Linked DNA regions of Homo sapiens: regions 1 and 3 are each linked to region 2. The links come from fine-mapping of genetic effects on gene expression. A gene starts in region 2. Each other region holds a variant in brackets. All regions are shown on one strand. Distances are from middle to middle.

Region 1 (10,867 bases), 770 kb after region 2:
AGCTATCCCATTACTGGGTATATACCCAAAGGACTATAAATCATGCTGCTATAAAGACACATGCACACGTATGTTTATTGCGGCACTATTCACAATAGCAAAGACTTCGAACCAACCCAGATGTCCAACAATGATAGACTGGATTAAGAAAATGTGGCATATATACACCATGGAATACTATGCAGCTATAAAAAATGATGAGTTCATGTCCTTTATAGGGACATGGATGAAATTGGAAATCATCATTCTCAGTAAACTATCGCAAGAACAAAAAACCAAACACTGCATATTCTCACTCATAGGTGGGAATTGAACAATGAGAACACATGGACACAGGAAGGGGAACATCACACTCTGGGGACTGTTGTGGGGTGGGGGGAGGGGGGAGGGATAGCATTGGGAGATATACCTAATGCTAGATGACGAGTTAGTGGGTGCAGCACACCAGCATGGCACATGTATACATACGTAACTAACCTGCACATTGTGCACATGTACCCTAAAACTTAAAGTATAATAATAATAAATAAAATATATAAAACAACAATAGTGTAAAAGAAGTAGATTAATGGAGTTCAAGCATTTTAAGATCTTTGCATTGTCAGAGAAGTGGTAAATGTGATAATCTATGTTAGACAGTAGTAAGAAAATAGTGCATGTTTCAGGCCAGTTACACATAAATGTTATCACTAAAATAAGGTGTTCTTAAAGAGATAACTATCACCCTAACTGGGATGTTCACATAGCATAATAAAAAAACCCACTTATTCCAAAAAAAGAAAAGAAAGAATAGAAAAAGGATAACATTTAAGTAGAAAAAAAAATAGATAGCAATAATAGATATAAACCAAAATCTATAAGTAATCATATTAAAAGTAAGTAGAATATACCAAATAAAATAGAAAGAATTTCATACTGGATTAAAAATAATCCTTTGGGAGGCCAAGGTGGGCGGATCACTTGAGGTCAGGAGTTAGAGACCAGCCTGGCCAACATAGTGAAACCCCATCTCTACTAAAAATACAAAAATTAGCCAGGCGTGGTGGTGTGCTCCTGTAATCCCAGCTACTCAGGAGGCTGAGGCAGGAGAATCCCTTGAACCCAGGAGGCGGAGGTTGCAGTGAGCCGAGATGGTGCCACTGCACCCTGGGCAACAGAGCAAGACTCCATCTCAAAAAAAAAAAATGAAAAGAAAAGGGTGGGAAAAATATATGTTATGCAAACATTAAATAAAAGAAAACAGATGTAAGTAGACCAACATTAGACCAAGTGGATTTTAAGGAAAGAAGAATGAGTAGAAATTAAGGCAAATATTTCTTAATGAAAAAGGGTCAAACCACCAAAAAGTTATAACAAATATAAATGTTTATGCACTTAATGACATAGGTGCAGAGAATATTAAAAAAATGGACAGAAATAAAATTTTAGAAAAGAAATGAAAAAACACACAATCATAGTAGATTTTAGCATATCTTTTTTTTTATTAATTATTAAAATAAACATACAAGGACAAAATTCAGTAAGGAAGCAAAATATTTGAATAGCCTACTTGTTTTAGTTCTGTCAGTTTTTGCTCCAAGAGTTTTCAAGATCTATAGTTAGATGGACACACATTTAGGATTCCTATGAATTTTTGAAGCATTTGTTCTTTTATTATTATGGACTACCCTTTTTATTTCTAGTAATATTCTTTGCTCAGAAGTCTTTGATATTAACATAGACATTTCAGCTCCCTTATGACTAGCATTTACAGGGATATCTTTTTCATCTTTTTGCTTGTTATTAACCTGTATCTTTAGATTTAAAGTGTGTTTCTTGTAGACATGACAGAGATGAGTCTTAGTCTTACTTTTTCATTCATTAGACAATCTCTGCCTTTTTTTTTCTCTATTTTTTTTTGAAATGGAGTTTCGCTCTTGTCCCCCAGGCTGGAGTGCGATGGCGTGATCTCAGCTCACTGCAACCTCCACCTTCCGGGTTCAAGCAATTCTCCTGTCTCAGCCTCCCGAGTAGCTGGGACTATAGGCATGCACCACCATGCCCAGCTAATTTTTGTATTTTTAGTAGAGACAGGGTTTCTCTGTATTGGTCAGGCTGGTCTTGAACTCCTGACCTCAGGTGATCTGCCTGCCTCGACCTCCCAAAGTGCTGGGATTACAGGCGTGAGCCACCATGCCTGGCCATCTCTATCTTTTAATTGGAGTGTTTACACTATTTACTATGTCATTATTAATATGTTGGGCTTAAGTCTATCCTTTTTGTTATTTTTTCTTTGTTCCATCTTTTTTTGTGTTTTTTTCCCCCACTTTTCTTACCTTCTTAACTGAGCATTTTCATATTCCATATTATGTCCTTTACTAGATTATTAGCTATACTTCTTTGTTTTACTTTATATTGATTTTTCTATTTCAGGAAACATCTTTAACACATTATCATACATCTTCCAGTAGTCTAATCCCACTTCGTATATAATGTAAAAGCCTTGCAGATACATACTTACATTACTTTCCACCAGAACTTTGTGCTACTTTTGTCAAACAATTTACTTGTACATTTTATAAATCCCAAATATATTGTTGTTAATTTTTTGCTTAAAAAGTGAATAGTGTAAGGACTTCTGCTTCTGACCAAAATGGAGTAATAACAAACAGATTGTTCTCCCACATGAAACAACTCAAAAACAAGCAGACAGAATAGATAAAATTGTAGTTTTCAATACACAGGAATCAGGCAAAAAAGGACAGTAATCCTTGAGAGACAGGAAACAAACAAGGTGAGCCATGTGATTGCACCAGTGGAGTAATGAAGAGAAGAGAGTTGCACAGAGAAAGAACTCAGATGTATTCAGAGTCTCCCTTGAGCAGCAACACTAGGAAAGAACAATCCAAAATAATTAGAGGGATCAGTATTCAGTTCTCAGCGGGGCCGGGAATAGTGTTAGTTCCCTTAAGGAATGTTGGAATTTATTTGGAAACAAAAGCCTTTTCTAAATAACTTGTGGGTCAAAAAAAAAAAAAAAAAAATCAAAAGGTAAATTTAAAAGTACTAGGAACTGAACAAAAGTGAAAACAGTGTATCAAAATTTGCAGGGTGCTATGAAAGCAGTACTTAGAGGGAAATTCATAGCACTAGACACCTATCTTAGAAAAGAAGACAAATCTCAAATAAATGACCTTAGCTTCCACCTTAAGAAGCAAGCAAAATGAAGAGTAAATAAACTTAAAGTAAGTAGAAGAAAGAAAACAATGAAAATCAGAATGGAAAAAAAATAAAAAGCTGAGAAACAATAGAGAAAATTAAAAAAAACAAAAACAGAAAGCTGGTTTGTAAAGAAGATAAATAAAATAGGAAAATCTCTAGCCAGACTGATCAGGAAAAAGAGAGAACACATTACTAATATTAGCAATGAGAGTGGCAATGCCACTACAGAATATAGATATTAGAAGCATAATGAAAAAATATAATGAACAACTTTAAATCCTCTTTAAATCATTGAGCATATTTATAATACCTGATTAAAAGTATTTGTGCCTGCTGTTTCCATAATCTCAGTCATTTCAGGTTTATATATATTGGATTTTTTAAATTATGGGTTTAATTTTCTTGCTCACATTTTCCTGCTTCTTTACACATCTATCAAGTTTTTGTGTGTTTGACATTGTAAATGTTACATTATTCAGTATCTAGACTGTGTTGATGTACTTTAAAGAGTGCTGGCTGGGCGCCCCGGTGGCTCACGACTGTAATCCCAGCATGTTGGAAGGCTGGGGCAGGTGGATCACCTGAGGTCAGGAGTTCGAGACCAACCTGGCCAAAGTGGTGAAACCTCATCTTTACTAAAAATACAAAAAATTAGCTGGGCATGATGGCAGGCACCTGTAATCCCAGGTACTGGGGAGGCTGAGACAGGAGAATCGCTTGAACGCAGGTGGAGGTTGCAGTGAGCTGAGATCACGCCACTGCACTCCAACCTGGGCAACAGAGCAAGACTCCATCTCAAAAAAAAAAAAAATGTGCTGAAGTGTGCCTTGTCAGGTAGCTAAGGTACTGTGGAGCAGCGTGGCTTTCTGGAGACTTGTTCAGGACAATTCTAGAGCAGTCTTTCTCTAGGTTTACCTTAGCCCTATTGCTAAAGCATGACCTTGACATTGTCTCTTCTGAATGTACTGGGAGTTCGGTTATTTCATCCCATTATGGCTGGTCAGAATTCAAATGTTTCCCGTGTCTCTGTGAGCTCTGAGAATTGTGCAGTTTACAGTTACCCAGTAGTAGTTCTTTGTCCAGCCTCGTGGAGTATCACTGAAGCATGCGCTATTTAGTATTCGACTGAAGACTCAAGAGGGTGCATATGCAGATTTATGGAGCTTCTCTTATTGAATAGCTCCCTCCCCTCCAGTACCTGGGTCTGATGTCCAGCTGTATAGGTCTCCACAAACTACGATCTCTGTTTCTCAACTCAGCAAGATCACTGTGCTCTGCTGGTCTCCCCGCATCATGGTCCAGAAAGTGCCCTAGACAGATAGCCAGGGGACCTGAGTGATGGCCTTGTTTGTTATTCAGATATCACAGTCCTGTGCTGCCTATTGTATCATGCGTGAAGACAATTATTTCATTCATTTTATATATTCAGTTTTCTAAATTTTTACTGTGGGAGAACAAGTCCAGTGTCAGTTTCTCTGTCACGGCCAGAAGCAGAAGTTGACTCATTTACGTATGCGGGTGTATTTATCAAAGCTTTCTGTACAATTTCCTTGGTGTCATGCATAGAAAAAGTCTTTATATTAACTTATATTTTCTGCCAGTACCTTAATGGCTTTATATTTATTAATATTAAATTCTTTAGGCCATGTAGAATTTATTTTGGTGAGAGATGTAAGGCATTAGTCTAGCTTTTCACAAATGGTTAGCCAATTGTGCTAACCCAATTTTCTAAATAATCTATCCTTTCCTTAGAGGTATAAAATGCCTCCTTTATATACTGAATTTACATGTAATTGCATCTATATCTTGACTCTTTTTTTTTCAGATAAATTTTCCATTGCTGAAGTAGTATAGGAAAATTACTCTGAGTTCCGAAATACTGACTTACAAACTAATTGTTAAAGCACACTCCACAGAAAGAAAATGTGCTGAAATGCAAATAATATGGGATGTAGAGGCAAAGAATATTGACTCGACTCTCTGTTCTACTACATATTCTCTGTGTAACGCTCAACCCACGAGCATCAGTTTCTTCAGTAGTAAGATGGGAAAATTGACATTCCATTATTTCCACTTCACTTAAAAGCTCTGTATTCCAGCAGGACAGAACTTCTCCGTATTCCTAAGATACCTTCCTTTTATACGTCTCCATGTCCTGGCCCACATTGTTATCTCTATTTGAAACAGCTTTCTTATTTTCTTTTTTTGGTGGTGAACTCTTATTCACCTTGCAATAAA[T/AT]AGATATGCCATCTCGTCTCTGGTGCTAGATTCTCCAGCTACTTAACCCTCTTACTCCCAACAGCCTGCACCCACATCTCATTGTGCTATAATTATTTATTTACACATCTGTCTCTTGTGGCTGACTTCAAACTCCCTGGCAATAGAAGTTGTATTTTTCTTAACATTCTCTGATCATCAGAATTAACAAGAGGTGCTCAGTGGGCAATGGCTGAATGAACTGGTGAATGAATGGATACACAGCTGCAGGGCTGAGTGAGTGGCTCATCAGATTGGCTGTTCCATTCTGCCCTTGGTAAGCACACTCCGGACAAGGTGTTTGCCTTTGTGGCGCAGTTCTCTACAGTCTTTTCTGCTTCCAGATGACAGAACATGATGTCAGAGCTCTTCTCCCTCTTGTGGGACTCCTGAACCCTTGTGCCAAATCCCTGGAAGCCTATGTAGAGTTCCTCCAGCCAATGTTCACCTCTTTCCCAGCAGTCCCTTTGCTCCCTGTTTTCTCTGTGGGCTCTGGGCTCCTAATTCAGGGTTTTTGTAACCTCAGGACATTCACATTAAACCCTCAGGTGAGCCACTGAGCAGTCCCAACTGGCCTGCCAGCCTTTGGAACTGTGGCTACCTGGTGGTTGTGACCACTGGCTTCCAACCTGGCCCTTACTTCCCACCTGTCTGTCCTCCTGGGCTGACCAACTGCCTGGCACAGCCCCTTGAATTAGAGGAAGGCAACTAACATTTACTGAGTGATTATCATGAGCTGGGTGCTTTGTATATGGATTTACATTTAATCCTCTCGAAAACTTGTGAGCTTAAGGTTATTGTTTCCATTTACAGAAACCCAGAGAGGCTGAAGCTTGCTCAAGCTTAGAAAGTGGCTGATTCAGTAATCAAGCCCGTGTCTGTCTGATTCTAAAGACTGTGTCCCTTCCACATCTTCTTGTGAACTGTCTGATTTCAGTTTCCTGGGTATTCGTTGTCACATGGTCATCTCTGAGCTGGGATGTGCTGGTTTGGGCCAATTTATTTAGACTTCTGGTGTAAACCCATGGGAGTGGTTCTGTCTAGGCTCATGGAGCAGTAGGTCCTCCTCCAGTGCAAACTCCAAGCCAAACACCACTTGGGATTTTGAGGTACAGCACCTGGCCTCACTCAAATCTGAGTCCAAGTCCCAGCTGTGTTGCTTACAGGTTAGAAGATCTGGTGCAAGACTCATGTCTTTGGTTTCTTTGGCCTGAAATAATAATCCCCACTTACCAGGCTAAAGTGGGGAGCTAATGAATAACCCACAGGGAAATGTCTAACAGAAACAAGCACAGATGAATGTGGTCCACGCATCGCACCCCCTCCCAGACACCGGCATACCCACCCCCAGGGCAAAAATGGTTGCAAAGGGCAGGATCAACTCTGGAATCGATTGCCTGGCTTTGTATTAACCATGTCTTTTATTTTCTGTGTTCTGATGCTTTGATATCTGGGGCCTTCTGACCCTGGATGGACTGCCTCTTCCAGAGTTAGCTAGTTCTTAGTGATAGTGAACAACTCACCTGTGACTGCACTTTTTAAATGCAAACCAACCAATCCAGAGGCCACACTCCAGTCACCCTTTGTATCAGGCTCTTACACTCTGGGCCACTGTTGGCTTGGCCACAACTAGCGACAGCCCATATGAAATTGTTTGAACTGGTCAGTCTTAAGTCTGCTTACACTACCTTGCCCCTTCCACCCTCAAAAACCACAACAAAGGCTCCTACCCACAACTCCCTCTCTCTCTCTGCCTCCTGACCCACTCCAGTACTTCCTATGTGGACCTCGTGGCATGGTCTGCCCCCTTCTCTTGGAAACTATATTTTTAATGGCAATCACCTTCCTAGCTATTGGCCTTATATCTTACATTTTCTATTAATATACTATACTTTAAAACAGGCTTTGAATCCAAGATTCAAGACACCAGCTGTGTAATCTCAGGCATTCCTCTCTGAGCCTCCATTTTCTCAACTATAAAATAGGGGCAGTCACTGTTTCTCCTCCTCCTCCTCCTTTTTTTTCTTTCTTCTTTTTTTTGAAACAGAGTCTCGCTCCGTCGCCCATGCTGGAGTGCAGTGGCGCGATCTCAGCTCACTGTAACCTCCGCTTCCCAGGTTCAAGTGATTCTCCTGCCTCAGCCTCTCAAGTAGCTGGGATACAGGCATGCACCACCATGCCCGGCCAATTTTGGTAATTTTGTTTTCAGTAGAGACAAGGTTTCACCATGTTGGCCAGGCTGGTCTCAAACTCCTGACCTCAGGTGACCTGCCCACCTTGGCCTTCCAAAGTGCTGGGATTACAGGCGTGAGCCACCACGCCTGGCCCACCATTTCTATTTCTTAAGATGGTTATGAGGATTAACTAATGGATCACCTGACACATGCTAAGTGCTCAACCAGGGTTAATGCCGTTAGTGTGATGATCACTGCTGTGCATTCTGTACTCACCAAACACCCACCATGGTGCAATGCACAGTCTGGGGTGGACACAGTGCAGCCCTGATTTGGACGAGGACGAGCAGTTAAGACCCCTTCTCTGTGTATTTCCTGACCATCCAAATACAAATTGGGGCCCCTAGTATTCTGAAGAATTATACATCTGTTCAGGAGAGGCCGGGAGTGGAACCTGGCCAGTCTTAGGACCTGAAGGAACAGTTATTCTGACTGGTGAGCAGCAGACCTGCATTGGCCACAGAGCGTTGCTTGCCACGTGGATGGCAGGAGGCTGGATGGACAAGCGGATGGCACTGCTAACTTGGTGTCAGAGTAGAGGTCAAGTGAGAACACGGTGAGCCAGGTTGATGGCTAGGAGTCAGGAGAAGGTGATTGGTCAAAGCTAAATTATAGGAGCATCAACCTGTATGCAGAGACCGTGTTACCAGGACCATTCTTTTTTTTTGTTTTTGTTTTTTTGTTTTTGAGACGGAGTCTCGCTCTGTCGCCCAGGCTGGAATGCAGTGGCATGATCTCAGCTCACTGCAAGCTCTGCCTCCCAGGTTCATGCCATTCTCCCGCCTCAGCCTCCTGAGTAACTGGGACTACAGGCACCTGCCACCAAGCCTGGCTAAGTTTTTTTGTTTTTGTATTTTTAGTAGAGATGGGGTTTCACAGGACCATTCTTTACCTGGGTGTGCTGCGGCAACTGGACCGGTCTAGCAGGTGGAGCAATGGCTGGGGTGAGGATATATAGACAGAGGATAGTGACTTCTAGGAACCCAGATACCACTTGATCCTCCCCAAAAGAGAGGTCCCAAGCGCATATGGACTGCACCCCTAGAGCTGAGCTAGGTTGGCAAATGTAACCTGCAAGGCTCTGCATAATTGTTCCGGTGCATCAAACTATAGCATAATGTAGTAACAACGGTGATAGGATGTGAATGTTAGGGAAATGCTGTTGACCTAGTTGGTGGAGGAAGAGGGTCACAGCAGGTATGTGAGATCAGTGATTCTCAAATTTGAGCATGACTTAGAATCACCTACAGGGCTGTATAAATCACAAAGTACTGGGCCTCCAGCCCCAATCTCCTGCAAGTTTCTGATTCAGGTCTAGGGTGGGGCCTGAGAATTTGCATACCTAACATGCTCCTACACTAGCCAGCACTATGCTAGTTAATATTTTTCAAAAATAACTGCTTCCCTTCCATACCAGGCACCATGTTCTTAGGACCTTCCTTGAGCAAGGAGTCTATTTTCGTACCTGAAGACATCGGGCTTGGTTTTATGACATGGCTTGGCAATGAAATGTGAATGCAGGGATTGTGTGCCAAGAACTATTGTGGACTTTTGCCGTGTCTCTTTTCGTCTCTGTCAGGAGACCCGCATGTCCCAGATGTAGGGCTGCTCATTCAGCCTGGGTCTTATAATTAAGAAGACATGAAATCCAGCTGCACCTGACCCATGATGAACATGTGACATGGGAAATAAGCAAACCGTTGTCATAAGTAACTGAGATTTGGGGAACTGCTTGTTAGGGAAGCATACCATGGCTTAAAGTGACTGATATAGAAGACTTCCTAGAGAAAATGATGCCGAACAGAGTCTTAAAGGTGAATTATCTAGACAGAGAAGAAGAGGCAAGGCTATGTCAAACTTCATCCTGTAGGGACCTGATAAACCTCAAATGTGACATGTCTAAAACAAAGGCTTAGATGCCATTTCCCATCCCCAAATTGTTCCTTCCAAAGTCTTCTCCAAGACATTAAATAGCACCATCACCTACCCTGTTTCTAAAGGCAAAAAATCAGGAAGCCCTCCTTAATCAACTTGTCTAATTCCCCCACTGCCCTCATCAGCAAGTCCAGCTGGCTGCACCTACAGATACAAGGTCAACTCCAGGGTCTCATCCTAGTTTAAGCCGCCACCATCTCTCCCCTGTGTTGTTTGCAATTACCCACTTGCTGGTCTGCCTGTTTCCACCCTTGCTTCTCTTTACTCCATTCTCCACACTGTAGCCAGAGCAATGTGATAAAAATATAAATCAGAGTACAGATTAGCTCATTTCAGTCCTTGCAGTCTCCAAAGGCTTCCAATTATATTTAAAATAAAACCTCACCTCCTTATTGTGGCCTGCAAAGCCCTACATAATCTAGTCCCTGTCTACTTCACTAATCTCTCCTCACACCATGTTCCCTAGTCCACTTCAGTAAGTTCAAGACACATTGGGCTTCTTTCTAATCTTCATTCCCACCTCAGGACCTTTTCACTGCAAGTTGCCTCTTCCTCAGTTGCTCACATGCCACCTCCTCCTGAAAGCCTGCCTTGGCTACCCTAACTCAAGAAGTTCCTCTGTTGCTCTCCAAGTTGATCTCTCCCAATGTTTCCTTTCCTTTCCGTCATTGCCCTCATTGCTGATTACAGTTATTTATTTGCCTATTTGATTGTTATCTGCACACTCATTAGAATGGACGTTCCAAGACAGATAGAAGATCAAAGATTTTCATTCATTCATGCATTCACTCCTTCATTCAACAAATATTTATTAAGCATCTAGTATGTACAAGACATTGTCAGTTGTTCTGGGGACACAGCAGGCAATACTACTTCAGCAATAAACCACTGCCTTACACATTACAGTTGCTCAATAAATATTAGTTGACTAAATAAATAAATGAGTAAACCAAAAGGTAGGAAAAAGGTTGAATCAGAAAGGATATTGATCACAAGTACATTGCTAACAGTAAAACTAAACTTTAATAACAAAGCAACAAAACTGCTAAATTAGACTGGCTGGGACATCCAGATCAAACAACATTGGTCCAGAGAAAATGAGCTAGGAAAGGCTGCCTCATTGGGATTTCTGAAATTATGCAAGAATCATTAAAATGTAGAACATGACTATGAGTAACCAGCATGAAAATACCAAGTGCATTTCTTCTATTCACAGAATGACTACCCAGTAACTTATGTGG
Region 2 (10,867 bases):
AAAATTAATTTATTTGGGTGACTGAAGACGTTACATAAAACTCAGGTGACTGCCATATTTTCATGGATTGAGGAGGAGAGGACACCAGTGTAGAATTAAACAGATGAAACTGATGCCCAGACAGAAGCAGAAACAGGGAGTAGACAGAGAATCCTTAGAGGTGATGATGACAGCAGTTCTTTAGAGTAAATTGCATCTTGGTTCTTACTGTGCCTTGGTTGTCTTACTCTCTCTGGATTCTCTAAACCTTCAAGAGAATATGCCTTATTTTTTAAACCAGTGTAAGTTGTATTAAATAATTTCTGTATTTTGCAATTAGAGCCCTAACCTATATATCTAACATTACAGATGAGACACTAGTCATGAAGAATGGGTGGGACCTGCCCATGTTCTCAGCACCCCTTTTGATAGCAGCAAGATTCACTTGACATAGCCCAGTGCACGATCTTCATTCAGCCAGAGGCAGCAGGAGGTGCATGGGGGATACTTGGGGTTTACCTGCTGCTGGGAACTCCCATGATCCTTCAGGCTGAGTCCTAGCCAGGTATCTCAGCTGTCAGAATTTGAAGGGAGAAATAACAAGCTTGCAGAAAACCTAGACTATCAAGACACTAAGGCATGGAATCATAAAATGGGAATTCCCCCCAGGATTTTGTTTTCCTGTTTTTCTAAATATTTAAAAAACATGGCCAGGCACGGTGGCTCACGCCTGTAATCCCAGCACTTTGGGAGGCCGAGGCGGGTGGATCACCAGGTCAGGAGATCGAGACCATCCTGGCTAACATGGTGAAACCCCGTCTCTACTAAAAATACAAAAAATTAACCGGGTGTGGTTGCAGGCACCTGTAGTCCCAGCTACTCGGGAGACTGAGGCAGGAGAATGGCCTGAACCCGAGAGGTGGAGCTTGCAGTGAGCCAAGATTGCGGCACTGCACTCCAGCCTGGGTGACAGAGAGAGTCTCTGTCTCAAAAAACAAAAACAAACAAACAAAAAAAAGTATATTCATAATACCAAAACCTAAGCCATTTAGAAAAGTACAATGAAGAAAGTAAAAACTCTCCTGAAATCCCATCACTCAGAAAGGAAGGCTGTTAATATGCTAGTGATTATTCATCCAGATATTTCTCTCTGTCTATATGTATAACCACATATAAATAGATTCAACATTATGCAAATGGAATCATATAAGTATGTGGTTTTGAAATTTTCTTTTTTCACTTAACAATATGTTATAAATATCTTCTATGTCAGTAAGTACAGAATCATATTGTCATTTTTAACACCTATTTGGTATTCTACCCTATGGATGCATTTATTCTGGCATGCTATCATGGGATTCCATTCAGTACACAACATTGCATAACAGCTGAGAGTGTGGTCTCTGGAGCGACAACACCTTGCTTTAAATCCTAGTCCTCAATTTTCCAGCTATAAGACCTTGAGAAAGTTGCTTGCCTCTCTGTGTGTTTTGTCTTCTGCAGAATGGAGATGCTAATAGTACTTTCTTACAGTGTTTCTGTTTTGTTTTGTTCTGATGATTAAACAAGTTATTACACAGGCAGTGTTTAGAATAATGCCTGCATCGGCCCAGCACTGTGGCTCATGCCAGTAATCCCAGCCCTTTGGGAGGCCAAGCCAGGAGGATCACTTGAGCTTAAGAGTTTGAGACCAGCCCAGGCAACATGGCAAACCATGTCTCTACCAAAAACAAACAAACAAAACAAAACAAAACAAAAATTAGCCAGATGTGCTGGCATGCACCTGTAGTCCCAGCTACTTGGGAAGTTGAGGTGGAAGGATCGCTTGAGTCCAAGAGATCCAAGCCGCAGTAAACTGAGATCACACCACTGTACTCCAGCCTGGATGACAGAGAGAGACCCTGTCTCAAAAACAAAGAATAAAAAAGAATAATGCCTGCATCACACATCACAGTAAGTCTCATTGCATAGTATTATGATTTAATTATATTTCAATAACTAATCCCCTATTGACAGATATTTGGGTTGTTTCCAATATTCTACTATTATAAATTATTTCTGCAAAGCAACAAACATCTGCTATATATATTTTGTCCACTTGTCAGATGATGTCTTTAGATAAGTTCTTGAAAATGAATTTGCTTGTACATAAAGTATTCAATTTGATATTTGTCCTCAAACTGCTTTCTAGAAATATTGTACCAAATTACATTCTCATAAACAGTGAGAGAGAATGCCCATTTTTCCAGACCCTTCAGCAGCACTGAATTTGTTCAATATTTTAAAATTTGCCAGCTAGTAGGTAAAAAGTACAACTTCCTAAATTTTTTATTTGCATTTATTTCACTGCTAGAGAGGACAGTTATTTTCTCTTGTTTGGGACATTTATATTTCTTTTTTTGTGAACTGGCCGCTCATCTCTTTTATTCTTTGTTCTATTGTGGTGATCATCTTTTTAAAAAAAATGATTATAAGCGTTCTTTGTAAGATATCTACATTAAAATGTTGCTGTTATGTTAGGGCTTTCAGATTAAAATGCAGGACATCAAGTTAAATTTGACTTTCAGACAAATGATGAATGGGACATAATCATACTAAAAAATTATTCATAGCCTATCTGAAATTCCAATTCAACCAGGTTTATATCTCTGTTAAACTTAGTAACCCCATCTCATATGGATAGCAAATATTTTTCCAGTTTGTTGTTTATTTTTGAATTCCGTTTACGGTGTCTTTTTCCATGAAGACATTTATTTGCATATTTTATAATCATATATATCAGTCTTTTCCTTTATGCTTTTATGATATATTTAGAAAGGCTTTCAGAATTCTAGGTTTATGATGACTTTTATGTATATATTCATCTAATTATTTTTTGACTTCAGTTTTTTATGTTCAATTTATGACGGATCTGGAATTTGTTTTGGTCTGGGGAACTAGGTAGAAAATGAGATCCCCACACTTTCACTATCTAGTTATTCCAATATCATTTATTTAAACATCTATTTATCTGGGCCAGGCGTGGTGACTCACGCCTGTAATCCCAGCACTTTGGGAGGCAGAGGTGGGTAGATCACCTGAAGTCAGGAGTTCGAGACCAGCCTGGCCAACATGGTGAAACCCTGTACCTAACAAAAATTTCCCAGGTGTGGTGGCGCATGCCTGTAATCCCAACTACTTGGGAGGCTGAGGAAGGAGAATTGCTTGAACACAGGAGGCAGAGGGTTGCAGAGAGCCGAGATCGTGCCATTGCACTCCAGCCTGGGCAACAAGAGCAAAACTCCGTCTCAAACATAAAATAAAATAAAATAAAAACTATCTATCTGATTAACATGAAGTACCACCTTAAACACCACAGTTTCTCATGTACTTCTAATTCTGGGCTCTTCATCCCATTCCATTGAACAGTCATGTCCGGACCAGTAATGTGCTGGTTTTTGCCTTGTGACAGAGGCGGTGTCGTGTGATGGGGTTGAAGCACATAGATGCATAGTTTTTGCAGGCAGAACGCCTGCATCAAACCCCTGATCCCCTACTCCTACTTGTGTGACCTTACACAAAAGTGTAAGTGTGATACTTACACTTTTGGGCTTCCATTTCCTATCTGAAAATGGCAGCAGTATCAGTACCTGCATCATAGCTTGTTGTGATGAATAAAATGCATTAATCCACGTAGAGCACTTCCTTAAATAGTAAGCACTCAAACAATGTATTTTATTTATTCATTTATTCATTTATGCATGCAAGCATTTCTTCATTTTAATATCCAGCAGGGCTAGCTTCCCTTATGCTCTTCCTTATCAACATTTTGTTGCCTGGTCTCTTTATTCTTCCACATGACACTGAGAATCATGTCAAGTTAAAAAGAAAATTCTACTTGGAATTTGATAGAGATGGCATTGAATTGACAGATAAAGAGGACATGATGGGATTACAGTGTTTACTTCTTCTTGCCCAAGAATAAGGCGTGCGTCATAATAGATTCAAGTCTTCTCTAGTCCCCTAGTAGAGAAGGTTGTTTTTTTTTTTTTTTCTTTCACATTTCATGATAAGTTTATTTTTCCTAGCTACTGTGGCTTGGCTATTAGTGAGAATGGGATTTTTTATTTGCCTTTCAAAATGGTTAGTAAGTGCACAAGAACACCGTTAATTTGGTATGTTTATTTTGTAGCCTGCCAATTCCTTGGAAAGGCTATTATTTCAACAATCTTCAGTTTGCACTTTCCAACTACACAATCACATCCGCTGCAAACAGTAATCATTTTTCTCCCGCTTCACATATATATAATATATATACATATATACACACATATAGAATATATATTTTTTTAACAAAGGCACAACTTCAGTATTTTTACACCTTATTTCCTTCTCTTGTCTGATTGCATTGACCAGACGTCCCAAACCGGCCCCCTGCTCTTGCCCCTAACTTTAATGGAAATGTTTGGCTTGCTATGAAGCATACTGCAGGAGAAGGCTTTGAGAGGGTTTTGCTGTCGTTGTTGTTTGGGGGGATTTTTTTTTTTAACTGTAAAGAGAATATCTGAAGAAAATGCATTTGAAGAGCATATTGGAATAGCCCAGATTGGTTTGTGCGCCTGCAAGGAGCTCTTGGGCCCCCTCCCCTCGCTGCCAACGCTCTGCCCCGGGGGCTGAAGTTTCTCTCTGCGTTTCCGCTTGAACAGCGTCCAGCTGCCTCGCCTTTAAAATGCCAGGACGGCCGCGGCTCCGCTCAGAGCCCCCTCTCGGCTGCTGGCCCGGGCTCGCCCGCGCCGCTGGGGGCTCTGACTCCTGCCGAGCCGGGCCTGGGCAGCGCCCCCCGCGCCCCGCGAGCCCGCGCCCCCGTCACCGGGAAACGCCGTAGCCGGCGATCCGCGGTCGCCCTGGGCTCGGCGCCGGCCCAGCCAGGACCCCGGGAGCGCACGGGACGGGCCTCGCCAGGTAAGGACCGCGGGAGCATCCCGGGACCCGCTGCCGCGGCGCCTGCGGGGCTGGAGCACAGCATTGTCGGTGCCGCCGGGGCGTCGCGCGGGTCACCGGCCGCAGGCGGAGGATCTGCTCGCTGAAGTCGGGCCGAGCCCTGCCGCGGCGGCGAGGAGACCCGCGTGGACACTGGGACCGATCCCCTCCTCGGCGGCACTGCGCCCGGGGCGCGCCTCGGTCGGCGGGGAGGGCCGGACCCGCGCGGCAGGGGACAGCAGCCTCGGTGGGAGCCGCACGGGAGCCGCGTCGCAGCGGCCCGAGTTCCACTGCGGGGCTCGGGGCTCAGAAACCGGGAGAGTGTGGTGCTGTGCTCAGGCACCCTCGCTGTTCTGAGCCTCACCTCCCCATTCGGGGATCCTCGGCCTCTCTGCCATTGAGGGGTTTGGGGAGTGTGAGTTGAAACTGAATCAAAGTTAGAAAGTCCTTCTCGTCACGTTCAGTGCCTAAAATTCCCTCTCCTGTGGCTGACAGTCACATAGAACAGATTTTTTCTCAATGTAACTGATGAAGGTCAGCACGGATGTAACTTCTGGGGAAAGTTCTGCTGGTGGCAGCCTTTCTAAAGAAATGTCAAGTCTCCGTTGGATTTTGTTCTCATCTGTGGCAAAAACCCTAATCCACGCTTTCATATATTTTTCCGTATCAGTGGAGGCGTAGACCTATCCTGGGTTCTAATGTTTTGGGGAATGTATTATGGAGCCGAATTTGGTAAGAGTCTCCGTGCCCGCAGCAAAAGTTCTGGAAAAGAACCTGTTAGAAAATCCAAGCTGATGCACCGCCTCACCAGGCGTGCAATAGGGCCACAGTGGCCTGTCAGGATGTGGCTCGGGACCCAGGAAAAAAGCTCCATCGAAGCCTGTGCTGCCTTCGTGGGGAGAAGTTCCATTCTAACCCACTCGTGCATCCGCCGGCAGGTTCTTCTCAGTTCTCCTCTGATTCTAATCAGAGGATTCGAGTTTCTGGATTAACACTGTGATACAATCTTACCCTTTTCCATAAAATATGTATCCAGTGAACTAGGGGATCTAGTTCCGAGGGTCTGGAGTTGAAGTCTTCTATACTTCCCTCACCCTCATTAAGCCACATCTTGAGAGGAATTGTAATAATCTGATCTGTGGTCTTTGCGAACCTGCAAAGTGTGTGTAAGACCTCATAAAGCCAAACATTCAAGGCTTTAAAGGTGATTTATAGATTAGATTTTGATTAAGGCTACCTTTTCAGGGATGGCTCAGCATAAGATATGTACCAGCTTTGAGGAGGCATTACGGAGGAAAAGCAAAACCTTACGTCCTTGGGAAAACTGTTCTGAAACTAATGACTTTACATTTATCCAAAAGAGAAATTGTGGGGAAGCTGTTTATTTATTCTGTGTAATCATTGCATTCATATGTTGTTGTTTCAAAGGATTAATTTCCCAATCAGTTTTCCCAGTAACACTGTTTATGATTTTTGAACGGCATGCAAGTAATGAATGCATAGAGCATAATGTATCTCTAACCCAAATACATGTGGAAAATTATAGCAAATTTCTCGCCATTACATGTTTAAGATGCAGATTTAAAATAAAGTTATGGCAGAATAGGAGTTGTTTAAAAAATAATATGAACTTTAATTGGCCTGAAAAAAAAAAACTAGCTCAACTAGAAGTTCAATTGCTGCTTGCTTATAAATTGTGATTTACAGAATTGCGTGTGTCTTTCCAGTTCCTTTCCTTACAGGGTTAATGAAAGAGGCAGCCATTCTGAATATACTGCCTTGCTAGTTAATCTTTCTCCAACAAATATTTACACTACCTGGCCACACTATTACAGCACAGACTCAAAATCTGCAACCCTAAAATAGTTTGTGTGTAGTATTGCCCAAATTCAATACTATTTTCATGACGTAAATAGAAAATGAAATGGTATCAAGGAAAATGTCCTTTAAGTATCCTGTCTTGCCATAATAGAAAGAACAGTGTTTATAAAACTGACATGGTTCCTAGACTGAGGTTAATGCTCCTAATAAGTTCTGATGTAGAAGAAGACCATAATGACTGTGAATTTTGACATTGAAGGCTCTGGAACCGGTCCGTGTCTGCAAATTTTTTAGATAGCTTAAGTTTGCTATTAAAAGTGACAACATTTAGAACTGTTTGGGATGGAAATATTTCTAAAGCACATTACATGCTTTCTACAATCAGAGAGTCAGCGAATGGGAATTTGTGTGTTTCCTGACAACTCAAGATCAGCACTGTGAATATCAGTTGCCTTGTGGACACCGGGGAGAAGAACACTGGCATTTGTGGGGGACAAATCAGTGTTTAGTCCTGGCTCTGCCACTAAGTCAGATGACCTTAAGCAAGCCACCTTTTTTATCTTCAGTTCTTATTTGTAAAACCCCAGAATCATCAATTACTAAAAGTCAGTTCCATTTATTAAGCCCTTAGTATATACTAAGCATTTTATATATTCCATCATTTAATTATCAGGTTTATTATCCCCATTTTCCTGACAAGGAAATTAATGATCAGAGAAGCAACTTGAATTACTCAAGGTTAAATGAGGTAGGAAAACTGGGATTCTGAGTAGGGTTCTTCCTCTAAAAGATCTGACTCCTAGTGCCCTTGTCCCGTTAGAATCCCACAGACCCCAAAATGGCATTCTATCCCTGTCCTTAGGATGGCGTGATGGAAAAGAGCTGAGTTCCCCTGAGACTGGAGCAGGGTCAGAAAGACAGGGAATTGAGGCTGGGCACAGTGGCTCAGCACTTTCAGAGGCCAAAGCAAGAGAATCGCTTGAAGCCAGGAGTTTGAGACCAGCCTAGGCAACAGAGTGAGAACTTATCTCCACAAAAAAATTTTAAAAATTAGCCAGGCATGGTGGTATGCCTATAGTCCCAGCTACTTGGGAAGCTGAGGCAGGAGGATGACTTGAGCCCAGGAGTTCAAGGCTGCAGTGAACTGTGATTGCACCACTATACTCCAGCCTGGGCAACATAGTGAGACCCTGTCTCTACCAAATTAAAAAAAAAAAATCAAAAAAAGAAAGAAAGAGAACTGTGCTGCCACTCCTGCAACCCAGCCTGGTGGCAGACATGGGTAATTAAAATACAATGTTCTTTCCATAGACATGAATCTCTATGCCCAGGTGGTTACCACGAGTTGACCAGAGGCAGCAGGCATACTGACACCTGTCTGTTATTTAGAGGCTGATATTATTAATAGCTGACAAGTGGCCTGACACTGCATGGCCTTTATGATCACATCCAGTTCCCTCCGGCTACCCTGGCTTCTTGACTCAGACGGAGCTCCCTGTGTTCTAGAAAACTGCAAATTAATGGCATACATTTGTCGCACCTCCCTCTCTTGCCTAGAGCAGACATTGCTAATCAATTATGATATTCTTTCCCATGGAGCCAGAACGAGGCCTCAGAATCCTTTTCTACAACTGCCTGGAGTTGGCTTAGGAAATGGTATCTAGTTAGGTACTGTAGACAATGGGGAGAGATTGAGGAGTTTTAAGCCAGGAGAGTAATGTGATGGCAAAACTCCTGAAATTGTTTCCCTAATGTACCTTTCTTTCTCTCCTTACCCTTTCCGCTGCGTCTCCTATAAGCCGTAGGATCATCTGTAGAAATGACCCCTGTGCAGGCAAACCTGCCCCAAGATTCCCCACATCAGACGCAGGCTATCTTGATGCATTGCTACTAGGCCTGAGGGAACAGGTCTGTTCCCAGGTTGGGCTGCCTGCATCGAATCAGGTATGACTTGTACGACCAGGACATCAAAGACAATGAGACTTTAGAGTTGGTTCATTTGTATGTGAGAGGGCGTAGTCTAGGCTGGCACAGCAATGAGGCCCATGCACGGGAAGAGCCACAAGCCTCAGGTCCCTGGAGGGCATGGGAGGGCATCCTCTCCATTGAGAGTAGGCTGTTCAGCTCCCAAGATGACCCTCCTCTTGGAAGATAAGTCTGGTGCCCTCTACGATAGCTGATGTTTCAGAGGGGTGCACTTTTTCGCTAGGTCAATTGACTTGACAAATTGTCATTATAGATTCAGCTCCCAAGTAGTGACCTGGGTTCCAACAGCATTAACAGTATGGCAGAATTGTGCGGTGATAGTCAAAGCATGTTCCCTTTCCCTGGGCCCAGTTAAAATGTTAATATATTCATTCTCAGTGTCTGCAGAAGAACAGAGAAAAGTTGCTACCTTTAGGAAACTAAACTGTGAAATCCTGCCTCTCCCTGGTGTCCACATTTCCATGTGAACAAGGAAATTATTGTTAATCAATATGCATGCCCAGTGAAATCTAACTCTCCTAAAATTTGTCTTCTTGTTCAGCAGTTTTTCTGGTTTCTGAGGATACTCCTCAGCAAGATAATGGGTTTCTATGTTAGTGTGAGGAGGGTGGATTTGAGTGTTCCAAGGGTCAGATCTCGACCTATGACTAAATTCCTCCCTTACCACTCCCACTCCCCACCCTCCCCAGGAGCACCCAACCCCTGCAATTCAGAAGAGGCATTCTTCATCTGTCATTCCAAGGAGGGGACTTCTGCCTCCAATGGAGACCAGCAACAAAGCCTTTTACTTTAACCCTTTGACTATTCACACAAGACAAAAGGCACCCCTCTTAGGGGTGCAACTATGCACCTCACAAGCATAGTTGATGGGGATGAGGGACAATTTGAGGAAGCTCCTACACGTGGAATGTTGCTAAGGTGGTGGGAGGATGGGGAAGGGAGAGATCTAGTCATCAACACCTTAGCAGTTGGATTCACAAATTATGGAGCCTTGGAGATATTCTCCTAGGGGAGCATGGGGACCTCCTGGTGTCAAATTCACCTGACCTGTCTTCAAATCTTAACTCCACCACTTCCAGCTGCGAGACCACAGACACACCACCCGACTGCTTTGAGCCTCAATTTTCTCATGGGTAAAATGGAAAGCGGAATACTGACCTCCTAAGTTTTAAGACAGGCTGACAGAGGAGACTATATGAAATTAACCAGCACCGTGCTTGTCACACAGCAGGCCTGGGAAAATGTATGTGACATCTGAATCCGACTGCGAGGACAAACCTTTCAGTGTCCCTAAGTGGGCAGCACAGAAATGGCCAAAGAATCAACTGTAAGGCTCATTGTAAAATGCAGATTCAGGGACCCAACCTCAGATCCCTGAACCGCAACTTCCTGGCACAGAGCTGATAACAGACATTTTTAAACAAACTCTATGAGAGATTATTAGGCACGATAAACATTAGAGTCTAAAATCTGAGAATCACTGACCCAGCTTGGGCAAATTAGCAGTTTGCATACTTGCTTGACTCAAACTCCAAATCCCCAAAGTCCACAGTTCATTCTGCCTGGGCAGAAAAATGAATGCCCTCTTTCTCCTTCTAAACATAGAGAGACACACATTAACTCCCACAACGGGTTTCACACAAGGGCACTTCATAATTTCCTGCTGCCTCCAATGTCATGACGCAGTCGGCTGTCAGCACTGCCAGTAGCCAAAGCTTCCCTGTCCAGGCTTATGTGGCTCCGATCTTCATCGTACCAACCCAGGAAAAATCACAAACGGATAAACAGCAAAGCCCAGATCTGAGGCCAGGTGCCTTTTAACCATGACTCTTCCACAACAAAAGTCCATAATTACTCCAATTTCAACCTATACACTAGGAAGTTTCTCTCTATTCTTACTTGATCTCATAGTATTTTTTCCACCTTTATATGAATTGAACTTTGGAATTACAGAAAATTTGCTTCTTTGGAAGACAAAGATTTTAGTAGCTTAACAGCTGAGTCCTTTGAATTCAGAGCAAGAAATGTTTACCATTTATTTTTTAAGTGTACTTTTTGGGAGGAAAATGTTTTTCTCATTATACAAATTACAGATGTGCTAGGTGGAAATTTTGGAATACTG
Region 3 (10,867 bases), 56 kb after region 2:
TTATTTTTTGCATATACCTCATGTGAACGAAAGGACAGAAAGGGGAGTGAATATACTATGAATGTGCTATAGTCGGAGTTGGGGGGCAAGGAAGAAGTCATCGATGATGGCTCTTCTCAGGCCCTCCCTCCTCCCACCTCTTTCTGCCCTCCACCCCACTCCCACTCCATCACCTACATCTATGACCTTGCAGCAAAATCATTAGAGCAGAGCCTACAAAACCGGCCCCAAGTCCCAATTCCTCTACTTCCTTGTTAGAGGACCCCAAATAACTCACTCAGCCTCTCTGAGCCCCAATTTCCTCACCTGTAAAGTGAGGGAATAACATCTACCTCGCAAGGTTGTTGTGAGGACGAAATGAGAGAACATGGGCAAACATGAATGTTCTTGAATTCACCACCCCAGGAGAAGCCAGGGGTCTGAGCTGGGAGGAGCAGAGGTTCTGGGTGCCCCCTGCCCCTACAGAGCCTGGCACCTTCAGCTTTTCTCAACTTCTGAGGGCTGCTTCCTACAGGCCAAATCTCCCAGCCGGAACCACTTGGTCAGAGGAACACTCACAGCAGCCTTTCCCAGCACCTGACCTCAAGGGATATGGCGTCTACCAATTTACATAATTGCCTTTGTCATCAGTTTTCCCATAACATGGTACGAAGTTAAATGAGAGCACCTGAGCTCCCCTTCCTCTGAGTGCATTTATTCCATCCCTCCAAGCTGTGGCCTTCCATCCCCATCCAAGAGACCTGCAGCTGTGAAGAAGCTCAAGACTTCTTTCTCATTGCCTGCCTCCCAGCCATTAGTCCCCACCACAGCCCAGGCCACCTGGAAAATGGGTTCCAAAGCACTATCACTACTAGGTGACCCCTGAATGTGGACAAGGCCACAGCTCTTCAGGCAGCATTTCAGGGGCTATCCAGTTGTCATCCCTCTCATACCCCTCTCCTACCCACCCCTATCCCCACTATTGTGGAATGCACGAAGGGACAGCTGGCAAAGGCAGTGAACCAAGATGCAGGGAAGGCCCTGTATGATGGGGAGGATCTAAAGCAAAAGCCTTTTGTGCATTGCCTCAGGTTCAGCAGCAGCAGCCCTCACTCTGAAGCCTACCTTGAGAAGCCAGGCATTTCTGTGAAAAGCTCATCAGCATGCATTTACAATGCAAACTAGAACCAACTCCCAGTCAGCTAATAACAGACCCCAGGAAAAAGAAAAGGTCTTCCAGACCTCCCCGACACACTTTAGAACCCTCAGGGGTGAAAAAGAGGGTGCTCCAGGGCAGTGCAACTTAAACTGTGGTTGAAGGACAAACAGCCTCTGCAATACTTGAGGAGCTTGTTAGAAACCCAAACTCACAGCCCCCTCCAGACCTACGTACAGAATGTATATTAGCAAGATTCGCTAGGTGGTTTATGTGCACGTTAAAGTTTAAGAAGCACTGCCTGAGAATCCCTTGGTCCTAATTAATTCTTTTCCACACTCAGATTTGCTAATGGGTTTCACCTTATCTCTTGACTCTTGTTTGATGGCAACAGGAAATAGTAGCATTTCAGGAAGGGTGGAAAATATAAAAAGCACTCCCAACCCAAGCCTCCAAAAAACAGCAATTTTCATTTTGTGTCCATATATTCCCTTCTAATCATTGTCCTCATGCAAGATTTTTTTTCATAAAGATGATCTGCTACATAATTTTATATCATACTCTTTCTCCTAACATTACATCACAAGTATACTTTCATGTTGCTGCTACATTCTTCACACTTGTCATTTTAATGGCCATAAAACATGACATCTAGTGCACATATATAATTATGTAGACTCCTATTATTAAATATTTGGATTTCTTCCATTTTCCCTGTTGTACATGTTCCAAGCAAAAAAAGAAAGATCAAGATAGATATGATGAAGCCGGGGAGCTTGCTTAAGACAGGGGAGAATAAATACTTACAGTACACTCTCTCCATTTAAGAGACACATGGAGCACATGGGGGAGGGAGACCTGTCTAAGAACTGGATCATATTAAGGAGAAAAAAGCAACTGGAATCTCAGGCTTCAGTTGTTGCATTATGCTGCTGAAGCATAGAGGAGATGGTCCTTTGTGATCAGAGCGTCTCAACTCGTTTCTGGCAAGCTAAGATGAACTTTGGGGTTGTGGATAGAAAGATAAACTGATCTGCAAAAGAAATGCACAGAAGTATTGAAGGCTAGAAGTTGGCAGACAAGAAATGAAAAGCATTTAGAGAATGGGAGGCCTGTGAAGGTAGCCACAACCCAGGACTTAAGGAGAACACAGGCTGGAGAGGAACTCTCCAAAGCAGAGAATGGGTGGTGGGTTTTCCAGGCAATGGTGCCTAGTGGCCAGTTTTAAGTTGTTGCTTGTACTGTGCTCAGCTACACTCCCTTCATGTTGCCCCAAGCCCTCTCTAAAGTCTGATAAATGATCCACCACTCTGCAGCAGTGGTCTTTGGGACAATGAAGACACCTCGGTGGTGGGTCACTTAGGGAAATACAATCTGGAAGGGGCCAACAGTCCCAGAGACAAGTGGGGTAGCAGAAATATGCAGAACCAAGAGTTCAGAGTGATGGTCACTAGAAGAAATGTGGCCTCTAAGGATGCTCAGACAGGTGGATATGTATAGTAGGACCCTAGCTTTACCATCCTGGCATATCATTCCCATCATAGCTATTTCATTTTTTTCCAATTAGTTGCTGAAATGTCTACATGTTCTTATCGAGTTGAAAGATCAGTGTCTCCCTGTCTCATTAAATTTCCAGAACTTCAGAGGCTAAATCAATCCAAAAGGGGCTGGCCCTGCTTTCAAACACCAAGTGAAGAGAACTACAAAGTTTGGTGTGTCCACTAGTGTGGTTTCATACCCCCTAGGTCTTGCTGTTGAGGACTGGTTCTGCCAGGCATGATCAATGACCACCCACAATGTCCTGTGGCCCAGCCTGTGGAGAGGTGCCCAAACAGAGTTATCTGGGTCCACATCCATGTGCCCAGCTATTCTGTCCAATCATAGCACAAAGACAGGTTGCCTGTGTCCAGAGGGACACACAGCCTCAGGCACACCAGCCCTTACTTATGAGCTTGATGGTCATCAGCAAAGACTCTCTCCCTTTAGGAGGGTTCTCCTTGGGACTTTTCAGTGTCTTGGCAGGAAAGAGATGGCACACACGAAGCACTGATTGAAGACAGTTTAATGAAAGAATATTTACAGAGGTTGGGCAAGGGTATGGAAAACAACAGGGAACAGTAAAACACCCAGGGATGACAAGGCAAGGTAGCTCATGTCTGTAATCTCAGCACTTTGGGAGGCCAACACAGGCAGATTGCTTGAGCCCAGGAGTTTGAAACCAGCCTGGCAACATAAGCAAGAATCTGTTTATCTACAAAAAATAAAATAATTAAAAAAAAATTACCTGGCTGTGGTGTTGCACACCTATAGTCCCAGCTACTCAGGAGTCTGAGGTGGGAGGATCACTTGAGTCCAGGAGTTTGAGGTTACAATGAGCTAGGATCACACTACTGCACTCCAGCCTAGGCGACAAAGAGAGATGCTGTCTCTAAAAATAAAAAACAAAAACAAACTACCCAGGAACAGGCAGGCCACCAACTGTTACCATCTCTTGCCTAGAGAGACAAGGAGAAGGATCTAGAACCCAGGGAGAGCTATAGCCATGGAGAAGGAGTCACCCAATGGAAGCCCTGGCCACAGCTAGAGGATCAAAACTCCTGCACCCACTGCAGCTCAGTAGGAAGAGAGCTGGGGGAATAAATACCTTGACCTCTTGCCTCCTGCCCTCCAATCTCCTGTCTGGGTCTTCCATTGGCCAAAAACAACAGAAGCTAAAGGTCAGGGGACCCTGGGTGATACGGTCCACATAGGCAGCACACTGGAGCAAAAGAAGAAAAACCAGCACAATTCATCTTATTACCACTTAGCAGCCATTCACAAACTTTGCTTAGATGGGAGAAAAATATTTTGTCCCCGGCACAGGGGAAACATAAAATCTCACCAGCAGCCATATTGTCTGGGGGTGATAGCAATTTAGTCCCACTCCCTCCTGCAACTTAAATCATAATGTAGCCAGTCCCGGGTAAGTGGAACACTTCCTGTAAAGCACAACTGCTAGTGCCCCCTTCTGTGGCTGGTCATGAGGCCCAGAGTGGTAACTGCAGTCTTGTTCTCCCACCACCCATTCCATAGCCCCTCTACTTTCTGGCAGTCCCTTAGCTGTTGGAGAATTTTATCTGGTGGAATGACCCAAATCTTCATCCACAGAGGATTCAAATTCTTAGTGCCGTGTCTTCAATGAGTTGCCACAGTATCCACAGATTCCTAAAGAACATGAAGAGGCCTTGAAGATCTCACCTGGAAGCTCTGTAAAATTATCAGAAAGAATAGCAGGTGCTCTAGGGCAACACTACTCAAACTATGGTCCACGGATGGACAGCATTGGCATCTCTGGGGAGCTTGTTAGAAATCTAATTTCATGCCCCCACCTCAGGCTTACAGAATGAGGACAAGGGATACAGGGAGTACCAAGTGCCCTAGCGAATCCCAGGGTTCCAAAGCTAGTACTCCTTGCCCCTATTGTGTAGCAGAAACCCCACTTTCCCTTGGATATTGGGGTTAACCATCCTGACAGTGCAGTGATCTCTTTCTCTGCCAATATTTCAACATAAGGAGCCCCAGATGGCACAAGATCATCTTCCAATTTAACAGACCCATAACTATATTCCCTGGTGGAAGCAGTTCCTCTTGGTCACTAGAGATTTCCAAACCCACAAAACCTAAGGTTTCTTGGTTAAAGGCCATGTTTGTGGGATATGCTGAGATGAATATGCTGTGGTTTGAATGTGTCCCCCAAAGTTCATATGTTGGAAACTTGATTCCCATTGCAACAGTGTTGAGATCTGGGGCCCAATGAGAGGTGATTAGGCCATGAGGGCGGAGTGAATGGATTAATGCAGTTATCTCAAGAGTGGGTTTGTTATGAAGGGGGTGTTTGGTCCTCTTTTCTCTCTTGCCCATGTGATTCCTTCCACCATGTTTATGATGCAACAAGAAGGTCCTCACCAGATGCTGGTTCCTTGATCTTGTATTTTGCAGCCTCCAAAATCGTGAGCCAAATAAATTTCTATTCATTATAAATTACCCAGTTTGTGTTGTTCTGTTTTAGCAGCACAAAATGAAAGAATGAAACACCACAAATGGCAGGGAGGGGCAGGAATGGCAAATCCATATCTGGAATATGTGTCTATTCCTACTGCCCTCTATGATGAAAGGGATTCAGTGTAATCAACCTGCTACCAAGTAAGCGGTTGGTCTGTCTCCTACCACCCATCTCTGGGAATGGTGCCATATCAGGGGCTTGGCATTGGTCTCATTCATTGGAAGGCTACATATCCAGAAGTTATGGAAACCAATGGACCTTCACAAGGGAAAGCCCATAGTGTTGATAGCCTCTATCCCTTCCACTATGGTCACTCTGTTCATGATGTCATTGAGCAAACACCAGAGTAGACAGAGGAAGAGGCTCACACCCCCAGGTTGGGTCATCTTATCCAGCTGATCGTTGAGAGTCTTTTCTGCAGTGGATGCCCTCTGATAGGCATTTAGATGGCTCTTGAATATCTTGACACCCAGGGCCCCTTCAAAGATGTCTTTTCACACATATCTGCCCAAGACTGCCTTGGACCCTCTCTTCCCATCCTGTTCAGTTGGGTCAACACTGTGATTCTCCTATTGGAGATGGTTAGGAATTCCATACAGCACTCCATTTGCAACAGATACTTCTGGCACTATTGGATCTGCTGATCTTAAGGTCCAAATGGCAGAGTAGCTTTCATCACAGTCTGGATATACCTTTTCTAGAGCCCTGTATTATTCTGGGCCCCATTCAAAACCAGCAATCTTATGATGTAACCAGTAAATCCATCAGACACACACACAAATGTTCTATATATTGCCTCAAAAATCCAGAGATCCATCAACTGCTGAGCCTCATTCTTTATGGTGGAAGACACAAGGTGAAGCAACATGTTTCTCATCTTAGTGGGGATATTCCAACAGGCCTCAGCCTGCTAGAACCCAAGAAGTTTCACCAATGTGTCAGGTCACTGAACCTCCACATGTGTTTTCTTCCCCTCTCTGGCAAGCATGTGGCAGTACAGCACTTGCTAGTCCTCATTCACCAGATCCAATTAGCATAATGTTATCAATGTAGCAGGCAATCATAAAGTTCTATGGGCTGTCAAGATGATAAGGGTCTCATATCATATGACAGAAACCAGGAGAATTGGCAGATCCCTGAGGTAATGCATTTAGGGTGTGCCGCAGTCTTGTAACAGGTGAAGGTGAACTCCTTCTGATTATCTGTATTGATTGTGATGCAATGGAAACTATTTCTAATATGACAGTTCTCAAACTTCAGTATG[C/T]ATTAGAATCACCGGGACGGCTCATTCTAACACAGCTGGTAAGCCCCTAGAATTTTTAATTCAGGTGGTCTTCAGTGGAGTTCTATAAATTGTACATCAAACACATTCCAAGGTTAAGCTGCTAATCCAGACCTACCTTTTGAGAATTACTGTTCTAGTCACCAGGTACAATACCAGGTGCACACCAGGTGTCAGGGGCTGAGCGGATCTTCTCTAATAAAGATACCACATCCAGAACAACTCCTGAAATGGCATTAATTCCTGATTGTGTTTATGAAAATCTGTAGGACCCACCTGGCTTTTGCATAAGCCAGACAGGTGACTTAAATAGTGATGTGATTAGAACCACCTGTCCTGCATCTCTCAAGTCTTTGAAGGGGGCACAATTCAATTGCCCTGAAGATGCAGAATTGCTTTTGGTTTACTATTTTGTCACAAAGAGGCAGTTCCAAGGGCTTCCATGGGGCCACTTCTACAATAATAGCCCTCACTCCATGGGTCCAATTGTCACCCTTAATACCAATGACTTTATTCATCAGGATTTAAGCGGCAAATTCAAAAGGTTCAATGAAGAGGGTTTAATTTTGGGACAATTTTCAGAGGGACAGGTAAGGTAAAGAGAATCAGTAAGGGTTGATGATTAATCCAGGGTTAACAATGATAAGAAGCCATTACTGCCCCTTGCCTGGGGAGAAAACAGTGGCACCAGAATCTAGCAAAGACTGTGGTTATGTTGCCCACAGGAGCAGTAGGACATAGTGGGACACAGCCACTGCCCAAACCATGGCTCAGCAGGGAAAGAGTAAGGAGGATGATGCTCTCTGCTGCTTTATTCCTCTATATTCCAACCTCTGCCTGCACCTCCACTGGCCAATCCTAACCAGCAGCCAGAGAGCATGAGCCTGGGTGATGTTGTCCAACGAGGTCAGCCTCCAGGTGCGCAAACAGCAGGGCAGGGAAGGATGGAGAATAGATCTGGAGGGACAAAGGGAGATGAATCTGCAGAGGGCCCTGGGTGTTCTTCCTGCCAACAGACCTCAGTCAGGACCCAACCAGTGCACCCAAACCAATTTTCTAACTTTGACTATTTAGGAGGGAGGATTGGAATACCAGTTTCTCACATCCCTTGGACTTCTTATGCAATTTGGTCCACTCCCTCTCCACCCTTCTGCACCAAAGAGAGGGGCACCCTGGTTATATCCAACTATACCCTTTTTCCAAGGAAAGGAGTGTCCACTTGCCTCATCTACATAACTAAGAAGGACCCCAGAATTGAGAATACTTCAGCTGACCATACAGAGGCTGCTGGTCAACATATACCCCCAAAAAAGATTACGCTGTCCCTTAGAAGCCACCTCCATTTCACAGCAGTCATCCCATTAAGTGGGGAGATATGCGGTTTCACTTTGGAGATAGGACAGCAGCTCAAGCTTTCCACGAATATATATTAAGGGAAGAGAGACCCCAGAAAGCTAAATGACTTGATGACATTCAGGAGGCTGAAAGTTAGGCTACAAAAATAGTGCTTCAGTGACCAACCTTGGTGCACACAGGTTTTTTTTTTTTTTCCTTTTTTCTTCTCTTAGATTACCAAATACAGCACTAATATCATTTGAAAGAAGAGTTTGCTTGAGCTTATAGCTACGAAACGGGGAACTTTGTGAGTACAATGCCACACACATTTAGAAGCAACTACTGTCTAACAGGGGCTTTGGACACAAAGATGCATAGAGCACAGCCCTGCCCTTGAGAATCTTGCTTCCACAGGCCGAAATCAAAGTCCACATACCACTAGACCATAAATGGGGAGAGTGTTGTCCTAGATGCTGAAAGCTCTAGAATCCAGTTTCAGCTCTGCCACTCACTAGTTGTGTGAAATGAACAAGTCTCTGCTATTACAAAACAAATATCAGAGACCGTGTGGGGTCCAAAGATGGAGGTAAAGAAGCAATATTGCCCTTAGGCTGGGGTAAGGTATGGAGTGGGGGCTTCCTTGGAACTCATGCCACAGAGGGCCCAGCTTATAACAGATACGCACATACAAATCAATTTGTTCAAATTCATACAAGCACCTCTATCCCTCGGGCCTCAGGTTGGTGCAGCTCAACCTGTACTGCAAATATGAGTAATACTGTCCAAGCCAGGGGAGTTCTTCTTTACATCCCTGCCCTGTGTCCCCAGAATAAAAGAGACTGTGTGAATGTCACGCAGGACTGTGGCAGGTCCAACCCTGGAGGTGGACATGTCAGTGGAAGCGCTTAGGTAAGAGAAAGGAATGATTATTCAACTTGTTACACACTTCCTCCTAGCCAGAATGTAACTGATTCTTCCCCAAACAAATGACATTTCCCATTTATATCAAATATCCACTTTCTTGCTTTTTTTTTTTCTTTTTTGGCTTTTATATGATTGAAAATTGGTAAAATAGGCAACTGAACTTAATTATCATTGCCCTTGAAGAGAGTTGATGGGATGGCAATATTTGGATGAGAATTAAAGACATAAATTCATCAACTACATACCTACTTTATAAATTTTTAAAACCAAACTTTATTTCCAATCTGTGGTTCTGAAGGGACTCACAACATGTGCCCTCGTTGGCACATGGGTCTCATAACCTAAACAAAGAGTGATACTAATTCTTTACTTTGGCAACTAAGTGGACAGTGAACACTAAGACTGCAAAGTAGTTTTGTTTTTATAAAATATATTTAATAAGATTTAATTAATTTTTTTGAGCTGGGTGCAGTGACACGGGCTTGTAATTCCAGCTACTCAGATGGCTGAGGCAGGATGATCCCTTGAGCCCAGGAGTTTGAGGCCAGCCTGGGCAGCATAGTGAGACCCCATATCAAAAAACAAAACAAAAACAGATTTTATTACATTTTCAAAAAATGAATTTAGACATTTCATTTTGATTTAAAGAATTTTGAGATTAAATATTAAAGCTCTTTAATTATTTGTATCTCGCTTTTTATTATTAATAATTTTGAATATTTTCAAAGAAAACTAACTTTGAAAATGCATATGAAAAATTTAATTTTTCAATTTTTAACACAGAGTTTTGATGAAGATATTTACTTCTTGTACACTGAAGTATAATTCAATGTACTTTTTAATCTTTTATATCATCAATAAACCACACATTATATGAAAAGCTCAGGAGAGCATAATTAATGATTCTAATGAAATTAAAGAAAGAAAAATAATTGTAAAAATTAAAGTCTGATTTTAAAAATGTATAAAGTATAAAATTCATGAATTTATGTCTTTAATGCTCATCCAAACATTGCCATCCCATCGACTTTCTTCAAGTGCGGTGATAATTAAGTTTAGTTGTATATTTTACCAATTTTCAATCACATAAAAGCCATCACTTTGCAAATATGTTTGTTTTGCAATTATGAAAGCAAACATATCTAGGTAGGAGAATAGAAAGTATTTTATTTAACAGTGTATAGCTTGTTTATACCTCCTAAATACTGAGACTCCATGAGCACTCTCAGCTTAGGCCCTGCAAATGCTAGAAGTAGACCTATCAATAAGACACAATCTGCTCCCAGTGCTCTCCTAGAATTCATTCACTTACTGAATGAGTATACATCGAGCGGCTCTTACGTGCTAGGTACTGATGAACTTTCAGTAAGCAAAAGCAGACTATCCTCAAGGAGCTGAAAATCCAATGAAGGCAGATATTGATCAAATCATCATAGACAACAAAGGTCTATTTATTTCCAGGATCATGACCTTGGTGGGAATAGATGTGCCATGCTACTCCATTCCCTCTCCAAGAAAGAAATTGTCACTCCAACTTTTTGGTGTGCTGTTGGCAAACAGTCTGAAAATAAGACTGGCCTCAGCCTTATTTAGTTTTCAAGAGCAGAATTTTAAAAAACAAAAACAGGCTTGCAAGCAAGCATCCAGTCTTGGTCCCTCTCCCACGAGTTTCTTTCTGCCTCTCTGCAGGAGGAAGGAGAGCAAAATACTCCCACAGCCCTGGAAATCTTGCTGAGAGGACAGAAAGAGAGGGGATACACAGAAAACAAATTAGTACTTCAGGATACAACCCTGCCAAATTACTTTTTCTGGGGGTGTTAAAGGGAATATGCTTCCAAACTAAAGAAAGGGAGAAAATGTGAAAATAGAACCACTTTTGAGATCCATTTTGGTGTCAGGAATCTTTGAGATAATATTAATTGTGATACTTTACACCCCAAAATTGCCAGGCATGGTGTGTCATGCCTGTAATCCCAGGACTTTGGGAGGGCAAGGCAGGAAGATCACTTGAGCACAGGAGTTCAAGACCAGCCTGGGCAACATAGTGAGATCCCGTCTCTATAAAAAATCAAAAAATCACCTGGCCATGGTGGTGTGCACCTGTAGTCTCAGCTACTTGGGAGGCTGAGGTGGGAAGATCACCTGAGCC

The links. PIP is the estimated chance that this variant, and not a neighbour inherited with it, causes the effect. A credible set is the group of variants that fine-mapping cannot tell apart.
Region 1: its variant is the best candidate, but not a certain one, in a credible set for the expression of CTXND1 in cerebral cortex (GTEx, PIP 0.89).
Region 3: its variant is the best candidate, but not a certain one, in a credible set for the expression of CTXND1 in tibial nerve (GTEx, PIP 0.50).

Annotation. Positions count from the first base shown.
Region 1 is chr15:79,475,448-79,486,314 of GRCh38, reverse strand. No RefSeq gene overlaps it. Among named protein-coding and RNA genes, the nearest start is that of MINAR1, 49 kb to the right of the region's middle. The variant T/AT (reference allele first, on the strand shown) is at 5,440.
Region 2 is chr15:80,246,060-80,256,926 of GRCh38, reverse strand. It overlaps CTXND1 (cortexin domain containing 1), which reads left to right and starts at 4,714. Exons shown (of 3, transcript NM_001352888.2): 1 at 4,714-4,920.
Region 3 is chr15:80,189,772-80,200,638 of GRCh38, reverse strand. It overlaps CTXND1 (cortexin domain containing 1), which reads left to right. Exons shown (of 3, transcript NM_001352888.2): 3 at 1-5,158. Among named protein-coding and RNA genes, the nearest start is that of FAH, 42 kb to the right of the region's middle. RefSeq lists an enhancer at 3,227-3,396. The variant C/T (reference allele first, on the strand shown) is at 6,442.